Regions from separate parts of the Homo sapiens genome. Here region 1 is linked to region 2. The links come from fine-mapping of genetic effects on gene expression. A gene starts in region 2. The other region holds a variant in brackets. All regions are shown on one strand. Distances are from middle to middle. Region 1 overlaps ZNF277 (zinc finger protein 277). Region 2 holds the start of ZNF277 (zinc finger protein 277).

Region 1 (8,340 bases), 120 kb after region 2:
GAAAACTGATTACAAACAGTATTAAACCAGGACAAAAAATGAGATCAGAGAGCACTATGTAGGGAAATATTTGTTCCTAAAGTATAGGGAAAGAATATTTGAAAGGAAAAGTACATGAAATAATATTTTAAGTAAAACTTCATTTCAGCCCAAAAGGTATTATGTATTTATAGTTATTACATGCTTTTAAGGACCATTGTGAATGTGAAAAAATATAATACCAGTGCTACTTGATTTACAGTGGGGTTACATCTCAATAAAGTCATTGTACATTTAAAATATTGTAAGTCAAAAAAAATTTAATATACCTAACCTACCTTAGGCATGCTTTGAACACTTACATTAGCCTACAGATAGGCAAAATTGCCCAACACAAACTGTACTTTATAATAAAGGTTTGAATATCTGATGTAATTTATTGCATATTGCACTGAAAGTAAAAAACAAAATAGTTGTATGGGTACTCAAAGTACAGTTAGTTCATTAATAATAAAATTAAGTTTATAAAGAAAGGAGTTGCAATAATAATTTAAACTGTTATGCATTTAATTTCCCATAAATTAAAGCAAGTTGACATTAGGAATTAATTTAAAAATTAAAGAAGTAATTCAGCAATTTGAGGAATCATCTTGGCTGATCAAGAATTAAAGGACTTCAAAATCTGACATGAAGCAGATCACATAAGGTGCCATCTCTACTCCAAAGCCCCAAAGATTTTCTTGGCCCTTTACCAACCAGCAACTGTGGCTACAAGGGTGAAGCCTTTCCTCCCTTCTCACCTCAGACTAATAGGCTGAATCAAGCTAATTTTGAATTAGCTAGCAAACCACTTAGGTACTTGTATTAGTCAGGGTTCTCCAGAGAAACAGGACCAATATTATATATAGATATATAAGCGGAGACATATTATGGGAATTGGCTCACACAATTATGGAGGCCGAGAAGTGCCACAGTATGCCATCTGCAAGTTGGAGATTCAAGAAAGCCAGTGGTAAATTCAGTCTGAGTCTAAAGGCCAGAGAACCATGAACTTGAATACCTAGGGACAAGAGAAGATGAATTTCCCAGCTCAACTATCTGGGCCCCCATGGCTTGGATGATGCCTCCCCTCATTGGTATGGGCTATCTTCTTTACTCAGTCTGCTGATTCACATACTAATCTCTTCCAGAAACATCCTCACAGACACACCTAGAAATGCTATTTTTACCAGCTATCTGGGCATCCTTTAACCAGGTCAAGCTGACTTGTAAAATAAACTACCATAATATTGGAGAGGACAGCCAGCCCCTTCTTGAGCCTGCTGCCAGTTCCATCTGTACCTGGCCCCCTTTTCAGAGCCTGGATATCAGGCTTGGAATCCTGGGTAGTCCTGGCTAAGGCTAGGCCACTCCTAGGGGAACCTCACCTGAAACCAGAAGACATCAAGGACCACCAGTTCAGAGCATGGGACCAAGTGCAGACTGTTAACCCCACCAACCCTCTTCCTAACACTGACTTTGCCTTCACTCAGTCTCCTTCCAGCTCTTAGATGTCAGTCATAGAACCCTTGGCAAACCTGGCTCAATTTTGGCCCACTGTGGTAGAACTGTCCTTGATCCAGAAGGCATTAGGGATGGTAGCAATTAAGTATGTGGCCAGGGTAGCCTCCCAACACTCATATCTGCTTTGAGACAGCTGCTTGTTAGCCCTCGTTCCCTCACTTTCAATATCTGTATTCCTGTCTGGCAGGCCCCAAAAAAGTTCAGAGCAAGCCTAGGCTCACACATGGGCTTGTTCTCTGGGGCAACATTGCCTGAGATCATGGGGACCTTCCTAGTACACCTATACCTCCTGAGCCAGCTCTTGGTCCATTCCAAGGCTTGGGTGTCAGGCCTGAAAGCCCTGGGTAGACCTGACATGCTTGGTTACTGTTGGGGGAACACTTTGGAGTCAGGAAGGTCTGGCCTATAAGCCTGGAAACAAGTTCTAAGGACTGTCAGTCTGTTCCACCCACATCCCTCCCAGCAAGCTGCTGGCTGCGGCCAAAATCCTTGCTGAACCAATCCTCTTAGGTCCCAGAAGCCACTGTGGCCTACCTGAACAGAGTCTTCGAGACTGGCCAAGCCTCCAAACTCATTTACCCCAGGAGCCAACCACTGGCCTCTCATCTCGTAACTCAGACTCTAGATGCCAGATTCTTGAGCCCCAGAGAGGTTGAGAGCCGGATTCAGCTCCCCTGAGTACATTCAGTGTGACTCTTAATGGCAAGATATTTTGATCCTAGATAGACTGAGGGTGAGGGAAACCTCCCAACCCACCCATACCCCTTGAGTCAGATACCATTTCTGACAGCACCCAGGCACAATCTAGGCTCTAGATCTTCATCCTGGAAGTTCTAGGCAGATGTTAACTATGGCTCGGCCACTCTAGGAGAACCTCCCTGAATCCAGAGGCACTGTACTTTACCCCAACATGGCCTCGGGGATAGGGGGAACTTTCTTACCCTCTGCCTGACACCCTTCCCCCACCCCAAAACACACACACACACCTACCACACTGCCTACAAGAGGCTCTCAGCTCTGCTTTCACCTGAACTCTTCCACAGCCTGAGCCTCAGGTCTGGAACCCCTGGAAAGGTCTAGCTCTGTCTGGGCTGCCCCTGGGAAAACCTTTGTGGGCCCAAAAGGCACTGTGAACTACCCCAACAAGTAGTTTTAGTCAAAGTTATCAGTAATAGGCAGTGAGACAAATGAGCATACTAACCACAAGGTTAATAAATGTATCTCTTACATAGTTAAAAAAAAAAAAAGTCAACAAACATTTTTATAGAAATGTTTGCTTTATTTCTTTATTTCACTTTCTCAAGGGGAAAAAAAACACTGAAAACATTTTTTTGGGGGGGGACCAGGTAAGTGTCTAAATAATCTAGATAAAACCATATGATATGTCACTATGCATAGTCTATCAATGGTACTTATACTGATGAGGCTCTCCAAAACAATCACCTTTATTTTATGAACTAAAGTTGTGATAAAAGCTCTGTAGAATATACTATACACATATGCTTTTTTGCTATGTAAAAGTTACATAATTACATTTGTCCTTTTCTGTATAAATTAATCAAGAAGTTGGTCATTGTTTTGCAGGTTATCACAGCCCTTGCATTTAATAGACCTGTTAACTGTGGGTTCCAGGTCATTGTCCAATGATACTCTGGCTAAATGCCTGTGATCTTAGGTCATAGCTGGTTGTATTTTCTGTTAGGCAGTTGCCTCTTACTCGTCTCCATGATGAATTGGAAAAGTAGAAGCAGCACAGTTAATTTAATAGTTTAAAGCAGTGATCCCCAACCTTTTTGGCACCAGGGACCAGTTTCAGAATGAAACTGTTTTATCTCAGATCATCAGGCATTAGATTCTCATAAGAAGTACACAACCTAGATCCCTCGCATGCACAGTTTACAAAAGGGTTCGCGCTCCTATGAGAATCTAATGCCACCACTGATCTGACAGGAGGCGGAGCGCAGGTGGTAATGCTCACTTTCCCGCCTCTCACCTCTTTCTGTGCAGCCTGCTTCCTAACAGGCCATGGACCGATACCCCTGGTTTAAAGGACAGAACCTGATTCTTCTATAGAGTGTAGCCAAGCAGCAGATAGTAGAACAAACTTTGGTATCCCTTTACAGAACTGATGTGACTGTGTACACTTACATACTTTATAATGTCACTCTTTAATAGCTGAAATCTTTGTGTTAGTGCTTAGCACTTGCTTATACCTCTAATTAGTGTTTTTATTATGTGAATGCTATTCCAACCCAAATGTGTTCTTAGATGATTTGTGAATAATCCTAATTGCTCAAATTTCTTCCTAGATCTGTTATTTTGAACCACATGGCCAGAGAACATGCTTTCAACATTGGATTGCCAGACAACATTGTAAACTGCAATGAATTTTTGTGTACATTACAGAAAAAGCTTGACAAGTAAGTACTGATTTATGAAACACTGCCTAAAGCTGTTTTAATCTTGGACTCTGTTGTGAATATTTTTAAATTAATTTAATAGAGTAATTAAAGAAGTGGGAATTTCCCATGTTGGAGGAGTTCACATTTTGTACGACAGTCCTTATTTTGTCTAGATCATATTGCCCTTTGGTGTTTTTTAAATTTTTCAAATACACTATGTCATATATACCAAACAATATACATATCATACAATGTATGCCGTATAGGATATGAAGAATATACTCACTGTCTAGCCTAAGAAATAGAACATTGTTAATTCCTTTGAATCTCCCTGTGTGTCTTTCCTCATTAGTATTTCCCCAGAAACCACTATTCTTAATTTTGTAATTGTAATTCCTTTACTTTTCACTGTAACTTGTCTACATATTCAATAAGGTAAATATATTGTCAAATTATGGAATGGTGTTTAATTTTGTGTGAAACGTAGCATACTGTGTGTATTCTTCTGCCTTTTGGTTTTCATTCACATTTGTATATAATACTCCATTTCCTCAAGGTCATATTCTGGCAACCATATCTGGAGCTTAGCCTGTTGAAATAAGGAAGAAAATTCTTTAGGTCACCAAAATGACTTTCAAAAACGTATCCACTTTTCTTTCTAGGAAAGGGCCCAAAATTTTTTCTCTGAGAACCCAGTTTTCTTTATTTAAATAAAATACTAACAAGTGTGGTGCTTCAACCCACAACACTGAGAGCAACAACATAGAAAAAAAAATAAGGGCCGGGTGTGGTAGCTCACACCTGTAATCCCAGCACTTTGGGAGGCCGAGGTGGGCGGATCACCTGAGCTCGGGATTTTGAGACCAGCCTGACCAACATGGAGAAACCCCATCTCTACTAAAAATACAAAATTAGCCGGGCATGGTGGTGCATGCCTGTAATCCCAGCTACTCAGGAGGCTGAGGCAGGAGAATCGCTTGAACCCGGGAGGCACAGGTTGTAGTGAGCAGAGATTGCACCATTGCACTCCAGCCTGGGCAACAAGAGCAAAACTCTGTCTCA[A/AAAAT]AAATAAATAAATAAATAAATAAGAGGAAGCAAGTAATACAGATTAATTATAAGAAATTTTTAACTCAAATTTTGATGTCACCACTATGTTAAATCGAGTCCCTTCACCCTTTTGTTAAACGACTACCTATAAAATAAGACCAGATGTGCCTTCTAGCAAGATTAGCAATAATGAATATATATAATCAGCTTATCACCCATAAATTGTCAACTATAAAAGAATATACTACAAAAGAATATTATTATGCCCTGGAATATATTCTTTGGCATAAGAAATTGATGAAAAGGTGTTTAGTAGAGATAAAAACAAATTCAAAATTGAAACAATAACAGATTGCAATCATTTGAGAGTTTCCCATGTAAAATATATTATACTTAGACACTATATGGCTCCAGAAAGTAGAACTCTCTACTTTTTACTGAGTAGCAATTATAATACATGTTGTATCAACTGTCAGGCTTAGTATGAGAAAGACATTTTGTTAATAATCTGCTCAAAACTGGTAATCACTGCTTCATTAGGTAATGAATGCCCAGTCAGTGGAAATATTTGAGCAGAAGGTATATGAGAATTATATGGTAGTAACAGCTACTATTTATCTTATTCACATACATGAATAAATACCTAGCACAGTTCATAGTGCATAGTAAGTGCTCAATAAATATATATATATGAAATTATCATTTAAAAATCTCTAAAATGTTGGTATTATCTTCAGTTTAGAAATCAGAAAATGGCAACAGAGAAGGGAAGTAACTTAAAGTCCCACAGCTAGCTGGCACTGGAGCAAGGAATTAAACCCTGCAAATCAGCTCACAGGATATCCCAAACCATGTACTAATTATTACATACAATGGGTGCAGTCAGTGCAAGTCATTATAATTAATTGAAGAACATACCTACATACTTATTTTAGAATAGGTAATTCAGTTAGTAAAGAACCAAAATAATTTTTGGATATTACCTATCTTTGTCACAGTCTTAACTGAATAGCAAAGTTGGTCAACTTAGCTGACTACAAAATACACCATACTATGCACTCTACAAAGCCAAATGAATAAAGTGAGGGGGGATTCTGACAAGGATGGTATATCCCATTTGAAGATGCTGTGTAACCTAAAATGAATAAATATGAAACTCAATAATAATAAAGGATTATTGCAGCAACTATACAAGAGACTTGTTTATCAGTGTTTGTGTATTTCTTGTAGTTTGCAGTGCTTGTACTGTGAGAAGACCTTCAGGGACAAAAATACACTTAAAGATCACATGAGGAAAAAACAGCATCGTAAGATTAATCCTAAGAACAGAGAATATGACAGATTTTATGTCATCAATTATTTGGTAAGGCTTTCTTTTCATAACTTAAAATTTGATTGCAGTACTGCAAACAAAATCTTTCTGAGGACCAACTAATATTTGAATAAGCAATTATTGCAAAAGTCAAAATGTAATTGAGGGGCACATTCAAGTAGTGATTAGCTTTGAAATGGTTAGAGTACAAGACATTTGATTTGACTTGTCTTTTATTTGACAGTGTTTATGTAGTAAAAATGTCATGTCTCTAGAACTCACAGTCATCTTGACCAAAAAAAAAAAAAATACAGCATTTGGATATCCACATACCATCCCCCATTTATGTAATATCTTTTAACTTGGGGCCAGAGACTCCTTTCTTTTTTTTTTTTTTTTTTTTTTTCTTTTTTTCTTGAGATGGAGTTTTGCTGTGTCGCCCAGGCTGGAGTGCAGTGGCACGATCTCGGCTCACTGCAACCTCTGCCTCCTGGTATCAAGCAATTCTCCTGCCTCAGCCTCCCCAGTAGCTGGAATTACAGCTACTGTGCTGCACAGCACTGGGATTACACCACACTTGGCTAATTTTTGTATTTTTAGTAGAGACAGGGTTTCTCCATGTTGGCCAGGCTGGTCTCGAACTCCTGGCCTCAAGTGAACCACCAGCCTTGCCCTCCCAAAGTGCTGGGATTATAGGAGTGAGCCACCACACCTGGCCAGAGAGACTTCTATATATTCTATTCAAAAGAAACTGTTGAGTACTGGATGTGTTAGGTGCTATGCAAAATAATTCTTTAAAAACAATCTCTTTGCTCTTTCCCCTTCACCCCTACAAAAGTGTGTATCTTTATCATTCTCTTCAGTCAGCTTATTTTTAAGGGAAGTTTCAAGGAAACCAAACCATTTTACTATGGAAGGGGATTTTTATTTGTTTGGCTTGTAGGGTAGACTAACCAGGTTACCATGCCAAGCATTTTAAATGTATTGATAGCTCTCCTTTCCAAGAGGCATTCAGATGGAGACAGTGGGGGATGGGGAGAGGCATTTGGAAATATGGGAGGGGATTTTTGATAGACAACAATGACTGGGGAACTGGGCCTGCCTTCAATCTACTGATTTTTAAAAAATATATATGACAAAGGAGGGAAACTACTCATATAAAAGAAGAGGTTATGTAACTCTCCAGAGGAATTGGAAGAAAAACAGAGAGTTCTGTTTTGAATGGGCATTTTTCTTAAGCAAATGGAATTTTTTTCTCTCTCAATGTAAATGAATTAAAACCCAAACCCACTGGTCACAAAAGGCTAATTGAATATAATCAGCCATTTTATCTATTGGATAGAAACAAGCATATCCTGAATTATGTTGGAAATCTCTGCTTTAGGGTGGAATTTTGTCTGTTCTAACTATTCCTTGTAGTGTTAAAATTCCCCTTGAGAAGCAAGTTTAACATGTGTTTGAAGATTGACTCTAAGAGGTTGCCATGGTTTTCTACAAATGTTTTACAACCAGCTAAAGGCAAACGTACCCTTTGAGCTTTTCAATCTTTTCTTGAAATCACTCAGTCATTACTTCCTAGAGCAAATGCTGCTTCAGGACCCAGCCCAGTCTAATAGGGAGTGGACTTCAGTGCTAGCTCTAAGAAATATTCAGCTACTGCATCTAGCTATAGGAGCAATTTAATAGTTCTTCCTTCTGGGGCTCTTTTAAAACTAATATTCAAGATCTTGAGACTAGCAGAACATTATATAGCTGGAGGTTTTCACCTTTTAGAGGAGACTTCAAGGGATTTGCTCACTCTTATTCTGCCAGCACTTTTAGAAAAGTATGATACTTCATTTCCTGGGCATCAAGTAGGGTAGCTGTCAAAACTGAAATCATCTGCCAGGGCCAGCCATCTCTGGATGAGCATGGCAGATTGTGCTGCTCATACAGGGCACGGATTTGATGTGGCGTGGACTACACATTAAGAGAAGTGTTTCAAAAGAAAGTAAGGGCTTTAACAACGTACAAAATGAAAATTAAATTACAACTTTAGAG
Region 2 (8,340 bases):
TTAGTTGGAAGAGCTCTACAAAATTAGTACCAGGGAAGGCTTTAGTTAACACTTGCCCCAGACGCTGGGACCCAGAAAGGCTAAGTGATTTACCTAAGGTTACACAGCTGGCAGCAGTGTCTAGCCCAGAATCAAGAGCTAACTAGAATCTCCTAAGGTGAAATTGCCTATCACTGTGCCTCTTAACATGATTTCTAAAAGACAAGGTTCCCTGTTCCTCAGAACTATAACTTCATCACTATACCTTTTCCTAAAATCAGAACACTTATGACTGACTTTTCGTTGTTTTAATGAATTTAATCATTCATTAAATGGGACGGTGCCTATACATCAGTTACGAAAAAGAATTTCCATCTCCGATACATTTAATTACAGATATAAAATTTAACTAATTTTACCCATGTTTACAGTATGCTGCTTAAAATTTAATCATAAGTATATAAAAGCATAATTATCTCATACATAAATGAGGGTATATAAAAAGTACCTTTGCAGAAATATATAATTTATACTAAAACGTCACATATTCTGTTACAAAGACTGATTTATTTCAAAGAATGAAGAAACTAAATTACCACTACACTTGGTAACAAAGATCTGTGCCCATAAGATCTTTTCTTTAACATCTGTAAGAACTACATGAGAAAAACACAAACATTAACCAAGGTTAAAAGAAAAAACAAACAACTTGCAATATAAGCAGCTATAAACAGTGCCCTCCATGGTGAAAAATAAAGTCCACACATAAGTATCCTAGCAAAAATTTCACTACACACACACACACACACACACACACACACACACACACACGCCTAACAGATGGATTCTAAAAAACAGCTAAGCATTCCACAATCCAAATGCTCAAAAATTAATAATAAAGGTTAATTAACATTCTGGCACATGTGATATTGAGAACAACAGCAGTAATTTGGGGCAAAAGACCCTCTCTCTGCTCTCGTCCTTCATCTCATTCAACCTCTTTTTCTCAATTGTGAGCACACCCTTCTGCCTCCCCTACTCTGCAATCAAATCACAACCACCCAAAACCGAGGTGTCTGCTGCAGCCCAAAACATTTGACTGATAATATCCGGTTTGCCATTCCAGGAAATCCCAGAGTGGTTTTTAAGCCTCTGCCCACCGCTTGTAAAGAAAGGCAAGAGAGGAACTAATCGATACCAGCACCCCAGCTGTGACCTGGCACATGAAGAAATCAAGAAAATAAATCCCATCCATAATCTGTATAATTTAACACTTGGAAGAAAGCAACATCTGGGATCGACTCCAAGCAGGACAGTTTTGCCTGGATGGATCTGAGCTTCCTGCACTGAGTGTTAAAGCCGCTTAGGAGGCGATGCCCTCGGGTCCCTCACCAGTCCAGCAAAGGGACTATCTTTTTCCCTAGCAAGGGTTAATCTACCTCCCAAAAAAGAGAAGAGTGAGGAGAACGAAAATAACAACTACTAACATCTACTCCTTGCCAGTAAAGAGGCTGGCAAAGACTCCTCTGACACTTTGAAGGAGGGAAAGCTGGAAACCTTTCCCAAAGGTGGGTTCAGGTCAAACTATTGTCTTGGTAATTAGTCACAATCCAGAATGGAAGCTAACGTGAAATGTGGGAATGATTTTGTTGAATCCTACAGTCCTTTCAATGGACCCCAAAGTCCTATCCCCAGGCAAAGTTGGGAAAAAAAAAAACAAAAATCCCCTCGGACTACGACTCCCTGGGAAGGCTTTCCAGATGTTTTAAATTGCAGGAAAATGAATTTAGAACATAAGCAGATATCTACACATCACCTAAATCACTAGACCTGTCCTCAATTTTAAAACACACACACACACACACACACACACAAAGTACACCAGTCGGCAGAACAGGGCATTATAGGAAATAAAGAGTGTTAGTAAAATCCATAATGCTTTCTGTTAGACCTTCTGGGAGGTTATAATTGCATTTGGCCGGCTGCAGCCTTGTCGGAGAGCCTGGCTTCTTAATAGTCTCAACCCTAAAAGGAGTAACTGTCAAGGGGCGACCCAGCTGAAATCAAACAACAAAAACGGGAACTGTAACCCGCCTGAAATGGGAGGAGGAAAAGGAAGGGAGACTCCTGTATTCATCAGTCAACATTAATGTCCTTTGTTGTTCACCTTTACACAGAACAGCGAGAGCTATCCTGTTCCTTTTTCTCCGAACGCCAGTGTCAGGGTATGCTTTCCTAAAAGCTATCTCCCTGCCCCCAAGAACCAGGCTTTCCGATCCCCCTCCCCATTTATCACTCAGCAGCCCTGTACCGCCACACCGCCCCCACTGCGCTCACCCGGGGTCGAGAGGGTGGCCAGAAGTAAAAACACTGCTGAAATACCCGTTCTTCTCCAAAGACCAAAGAACCGAGCGGCGCAGATGTTGAAATTTACCAATGCCCCCGCCCCGCAACATACACACCCCATAAATCCGGGATCGCAGAGAGGGAGGAGGGTCAGAGAGGGCTCAGCTTGTCAGAGCGGCTCTCTCCAGGACCCTGCCACATTCCACACTCCGGGAATGTCGATCCGAGCCAGAGGGAAGGGTTTGCGCCTCCCTACTGTTTTGGGGGTGTTCTCTCTGCCCGAGTGTTGTTGTCTCCCTCTCCACCCAGAGGAACCGTTGCAGCTCCCTGTCGCTTTGGGGAAGAAGGGTAAGGAAGGAGAGAAACCCCATTCGCCTCCTCTTCCAACTTGACACACACACACACACACACACACACGCCCAGTCGCCACTCCAAACTCCGCAGGCAGAGCCCGAAGCTAGCGGGCCGGCCGCGCGCTCCCCCAAGCTGTCCCGGCGCTTCGGGAACCAGTGCGGGGCGCGCCGAGCAGGCGGTGCGGGGCGAGAGCCTGGTGCGCAGCCCTCTGCCTGGAGCTGGCTCGGCAAAGCCCCGTACCAGCTGCGCGATGCCAGGATTAGGCATTTTCAACCGGGCGGAGCGAGAGGGGCGCGGGGGCAAGGACGAGAAATGCGCACTCGCTCGGGCCAGAGCAGAATAAAAGTTCGCCCCGCGGAGACTCACCCACGCCGTATTTCTCGTGCTCCGTAGGTATCCACATGGCTAAAGGGGCTCCGGGGTCTTCAGGCTTTGTAATCCCCGCGCCCCTTCTCCGGCTCACAACAATGCACAGTCCCCGAGCAGCGCTGCAGTGCCGGAGCCCAGCGGCTTCGCGCGGGCTGCGGGCGCTGGGCAGGATCTGCGCTGGAGGCTCCCGAGCCCAGCGTTGACACTGCGCCGCCCGCAGCTCTCCCGGCGGCGGCTGCTCACAGTCCTCCGACGCGCTCCCGGGTACCCGGCGGCGCAGTCATTGTTCTGATTCACTGAACTAAGCGAACACGCCGGGGCACTCTCCGGCGCACCCCCGCCCGCCAGCGCCTAGTCCAGCCCTCCCGTCCCAGGGCCCCGCAGCACGCTGGGAATTGTAGTTCTTGGCCTCCCCATCCCGGAAGTGGGCGCGGCAAATGTGGTTCGGGGCGGGGATTCAGTTTTACTGATTGCGTCCTATTGGTCCAGAGCGCGGCGTAGGTGTGGAGAAAACATTACGTCGACGGGGAGTTCGCCTCCAGTAGCGTTTCTACTGGTGCCACCCCGCCTCCGACCCGCCCTGCGGCCCTCCCTTTTCTTTTCTGCCGGGTAATGGCTGCTTCCAAGACCCAGGGGGCTGTCGCCCGAATGCAGGAAGACCGTGATGGGAGCTGCAGCACAGTCGGGGGTGTAGGTTATGGGGGTGAGTACGGTGCCCCGGAGGCGCGGCTGATGTGTCTTCCTTTCTCTATGACCGGGTGTGCAACGGACCTCTGGTCTGACCCTAGGAGCCCTTCAGCTCTGGGGCCACCTGGGTTCGACTGGGCCCCACGGGTGGTGGCCCAGCGGGATGGGTTGGAGCCGGTGGCGGCTACTTGGTTGGGGCTGCCCGGGGATGGCGGAGAAAATGCCATGGGATGGCGGAGAAAATGCCATGGAATGGCCTTCCCCTCCGCCGGGGAAGCTCCCTGAGCGTTTGTCTTCTGGTTTGGAGCTCCCAGCTTTGAGCTAGCTGCTGAGTGGGTTTGGTTCAGATCTGGTTCGCGCGCGTGTGTTTATAATTTTGGGATTAGCAGCTCTTTCTCCTCACCAGTACACTGCCTTGGTTTGCTTGGTTTGACCTCGCAGGTGTGTTTTATTTAGCTTCCGGAGTATTTCCAGTCGCAGACTGGTGGTCACTGCTCTCCACTCTACAGATTTGCCCAGTTTGTGGCTGAGGTGACCTCTGAAGGGAAAGTGTGTGTATCTCACAACCTCCCTGTAGATGGTTAACTGCTCTGGGTGTTCTTCAGATTTGTATGTGGAGCCTGAGAGATCTTCCCAGTCTCTGGGTCCTTAGAGAAAGAAAAGGAAAGTGATAGATAATTTGCACTCGTGGCTTCAAAGAACATTTGAAAAGAGTTTTGAAAACCATCACAACTTTGGCTGTACCTGACTTTCAGGTTGTCCTCTGATCCACTGTAGGAATAAAAAACCAAATTTTGAAAGCTGCAGGTGGATTGTGTTTAGGACTCTTTTACCTTTAGTCTATCCCTCCCCCATTCCCCCCACCCCATTTTTGTCTTGATGTGTAATTTAGCACAAGTTGTCTTTTTCTGATGAACATGGTTTGGGGCTTAAATATAGTTCTCAGACTGTTGCGACTTTGTTTTTCGATTTATTTGTTTTTGCTTTCACAGTTAAATTGATATCATCTTAAGTATTTACCTCAGCGGCACAGAGTTGAAGTGCAGTTTTTTCCCACTTCCCAACAGTGGAACTCCCTACTCTGAAATTATTTTAGTACCTCTACCAAACAAATCTTTGGTAGTCTCCTGAGTTAAATATTGAATTTAACACCCTAATGGTTTATTTTTGGGTTGGTTATATATTGGGCTATCTGATGGTAACAGACTATTACGGTTTCCTAGATTTTCAAAGTTCCAGAGGGCTACCAGTTTAAGATCTAAACTGGTGAATTTATCTCACAGTCTAACTTATTTTAAAAAATGGCCGGGCACGGTGGCTCACCCCTGTAATACCAGCACTTTGGGAGGCCGAGGCGAGTGGATCACAAGGTCAGGAGTTCGAGACCAGCCTGGCCAATATGGTGAAACCCCGTCTCTACTAAAAATACAAAAATTAGCCGGGCGTGGTGGCGGATGCCTGTAGTCCCAGCTACTCGGGAGGCCGAGGCAGGAGAATCCCTTGAGCCCGGGAGGCGGAGGTTGTGGTGAGCCATGATCCACCACTGCACTCCAGCCTGGGAGGCAGAGCAAGACTCTGTATCAAAAACAAAACAAAAAAAAAGGATATGCCTTTCAAAAATGTAAAATATTTAAAAATATTTATTTTTAAATTTTACAAGTTTAAAAGTTTTTAAAAGCACTTCAAACCATTCAGAAGTGTATGAAGTAAAAAAAATGAAAATTCCCTCACCTCACAGCACCACTCCCCGAGTATTAAGTGATAAGAGTTTGGTACATATTCTTTCCAACATATTCTTCTTCTTCTTTTTTTTTTTTTAATCCTACAATCCGTATTCTGTTAAACCACCATATTCTTATATGACACACGTCTGTATGATTTGATTTTTTTTTTTTTTTTTTTTTTTTGAGACGGAGTCTCGCTTTGTCAACCAGGCTGGAGTGCAGTGGCGCGATCTCGGCTCACTGCAAGCTCCGCCTCCCAGGTTCACGCCATTCTCCTGCCTCAGCCTCCCGAGTAACTGGGACTACAGGCGCCAGCCAACAAGCCCGGCTAGTTTTTTGTATTTTTAGTAGAGACGGGGTTTCACCGTGTTAGCCAGGAGGTCTCGATCTGCTGACCTCGTGATCCGCCCGTCTCGGCCTCCCAAAGTGCTGGGATTACAGGCGTAAGCCACCGCGCCCGGCCTATGATTTGATTTTTATAATAAAAAGGGATAAATCTATATAAACTGAAAGATCTGCAACCTTCTTTTTTCTTTCAGCAGTCTATCATAGAAACCCTTCCACGTCAGTACATTTGTTTCCTTTTTTTTTAAGGACTGTGCCCATCATATTCCAAAATATGATTGTGCCATTCTTTATCCATTCCCTTATAAATGAACATATAGTGTGACTTTAGTTTTTCAGTAATGTTGCAATGAACAACTTTATGTACATATATTCTTGCCCACTGGTTGTATATTTTGGGAGAAAATTGCTGGATCAAAGGTTATGCAAGTTTAAAATTTTGACAGATGCCAGACTTTCCTCTTAAAATATATTCAGCATACATTGCCACCTGTAGTATATGAGTGTTCTTTCCCCCATATTGTCACAAACTTTGAGGAAATAATCCAGGACCAATGTTTCAATGACTAGTAGATTGAATTAAGTAACTGATAGAAAGCTTAGTTTTTGATTCCAGTTTGTTTTCAATAAAAGTGTTGAGTAGTAGTGAATTTGCGGTATCTATAACATAAAAAAATTTCTCACCCTCGGTGAGAAATACCCAGTATTCTCATTGACTTGTAGCAGTCAACAGGAGAAATTAATGGTTGATTTTTTATGTCATTTTTATAAGATAAAGTTGTCATTAAAAATTCTGCTTAATAACCTATGTATCATTCTGTTACTTTTTCCAAAATCTTTTCAAAGCCAACAAGGTGTGATATAAATTTTAGGTGTAAATATTTATATTAAAAGTATATTTTTTGTTAGGCAGTCATTTAGGTTATCAAGTATGTCTTTCCCTGTAAAAATCATACACCTTTTTGGATGAGTTCATGTCCTTTGTAGGGACATGGATGAAGCTGAAAACCATCATTGTGAGCAAACTATCGCAAGGACAGAAAACCAAACACCACATGTTCTCACTTATAGGTGGAAATTGAACAATGAGAACACTTGGACACAGGGCAGGGAACATCACATACCCGGGCCTGTCGTGGGGTTGGGGGATGGGGAAGGGATAGCATTAGGAGAAATACCTAATGTAAATGACGAGTTAATGGGTGCAGCAAACCAATATGGCACATGTATACATATGCAACAAACCTCCAAGTTGTGCACATGTACCCTGGAACTTAAAGTATAATAAAAATAAAATTTTTAAAAAACATACACCTTTTTGACTTCTTGAAAACTGCTTCTTTTAAGAGATTTTCTTCTTGCTCTGATTAAAATGTTAGTCTGTGTGTTTAATACCCTGGGACAGTGAGGCCTAGGAAGACTTTTTATAGAAATCCTTGCAATTCCTCAAAATCTCTGCTAGAGTGAGTCAGTGGGTGGGGTGCAGGCAGGTGCAACACTCACTGAGACCACTGTGTTGCCAGACTTCTGTGGCTCCATCCTTCTCCAAGAAAGTCCCCACATTGAGGTCAAGGATTTTTTTGCTTTTTTTGTTTTTGTTTTTTGTTTTTTTTTTTTGTTTTTTTTTTTGAGACAGAGTCCTGCTCTGTAACCCAAGCTGGAGTGGAGTGGCACGATCTCAGCTCACTGCAACCTCCGCCTCCCGGGTTCAAGTGATTCTCCTGCCACAGCCTCCCGAGTAGCTGGGATTACAGGCGTGTGCCACCATGCCCAGCTAATTTTTATATTTTTAGTAGAGACAGAGTTTCGCCATCTAGGCCAGGCTGGTCTCAAACTCCTGACCACAGGTGATCCACCCTCCTCGGCCTCCCAAAGTGCTGGGATTACAGGCGTGAGCTACTGCACCTGGCACACTAGGTCAAGGGTTAAAGGACACTGCTTTACATACATCTGAACAGTAACCAGAATTTCAATTTGTCTCCTAAAATTAAGAACAGATAATAAATAGATTCAGCATCCCTCACGTGGTGTCATTGGCATTTGTTCTTTTGCTGTTTTTAAAAATCAGCAAGGTAGCACAATTCAGTAATAATACATTTAGGAGGCTTTTGTGACTGAGGCTATTTCTTCTGAGTATTAATCTGTATCTCCATATTGTAATATTCTGTCAAAGTCAACTTTTTTCCCTCCGAATGGGTGTTTAGTAGTTGATGATTTTGCTAATGCTTGGATTCTGGACCTTATTATCTGATGATTTTGGTAATGTTTATCTTCCAGAGAACTTACTATCTCATGTGTGATGTCTCTGGAAGAAAGAGGGAAGGGTAGCAGGTGATGTAAACTCCTCATTCTTGTATTTCCTATTTCAATAAATGGCATCAAGTCTAAGCTAGAAACCTAGGAAGCATCCTTGATTCCTAACTCGCCCTCAGGTACTGAATTTGATCAGTTAGCAAGCCTTATTTTTCTGCGCCTGTAGTATATTTTGAACCTGTTCCCTCTATTCATAGCTACAGCCACTGTGCTAATTCCATTA

The links. PIP is the estimated chance that this variant, and not a neighbour inherited with it, causes the effect.
Region 1: its variant is fine-mapped to the expression of ZNF277 in whole blood (INTERVAL, PIP 0.91).

The regions. Positions count from the first base shown.
Region 1 is chr7:112,323,866-112,332,205 of GRCh38, forward strand. ZNF277 (zinc finger protein 277) reads left to right here. Exons shown (of 12, transcript NM_021994.3): 6 at 3,852-3,962; 7 at 6,219-6,351. ZNF277-AS1 (ZNF277 antisense RNA 1) reads right to left here. Exons shown (of 3, transcript NR_186626.1): 3 at 4,329-4,533. Among named protein-coding and RNA genes, the nearest start is that of ZNF277-AS1, 23 kb to the right of the region's middle. The variant A/AAAAT (reference allele first, on the strand shown) is at 5,007.
Region 2 is chr7:112,203,057-112,211,396 of GRCh38, forward strand. It overlaps ZNF277 (zinc finger protein 277), which reads left to right and starts at 3,639. Exons shown (of 12, transcript NM_021994.3): 1 at 3,639-3,751. The coding sequence starts at 3,661. It overlaps DOCK4 (dedicator of cytokinesis 4), which reads right to left and starts at 3,343. Exons shown (of 53, transcript NM_001363540.2): 1 at 3,046-3,343. The coding sequence starts at 3,082. RefSeq lists a silencer at 3,215-3,564 and an enhancer at 3,735-3,854.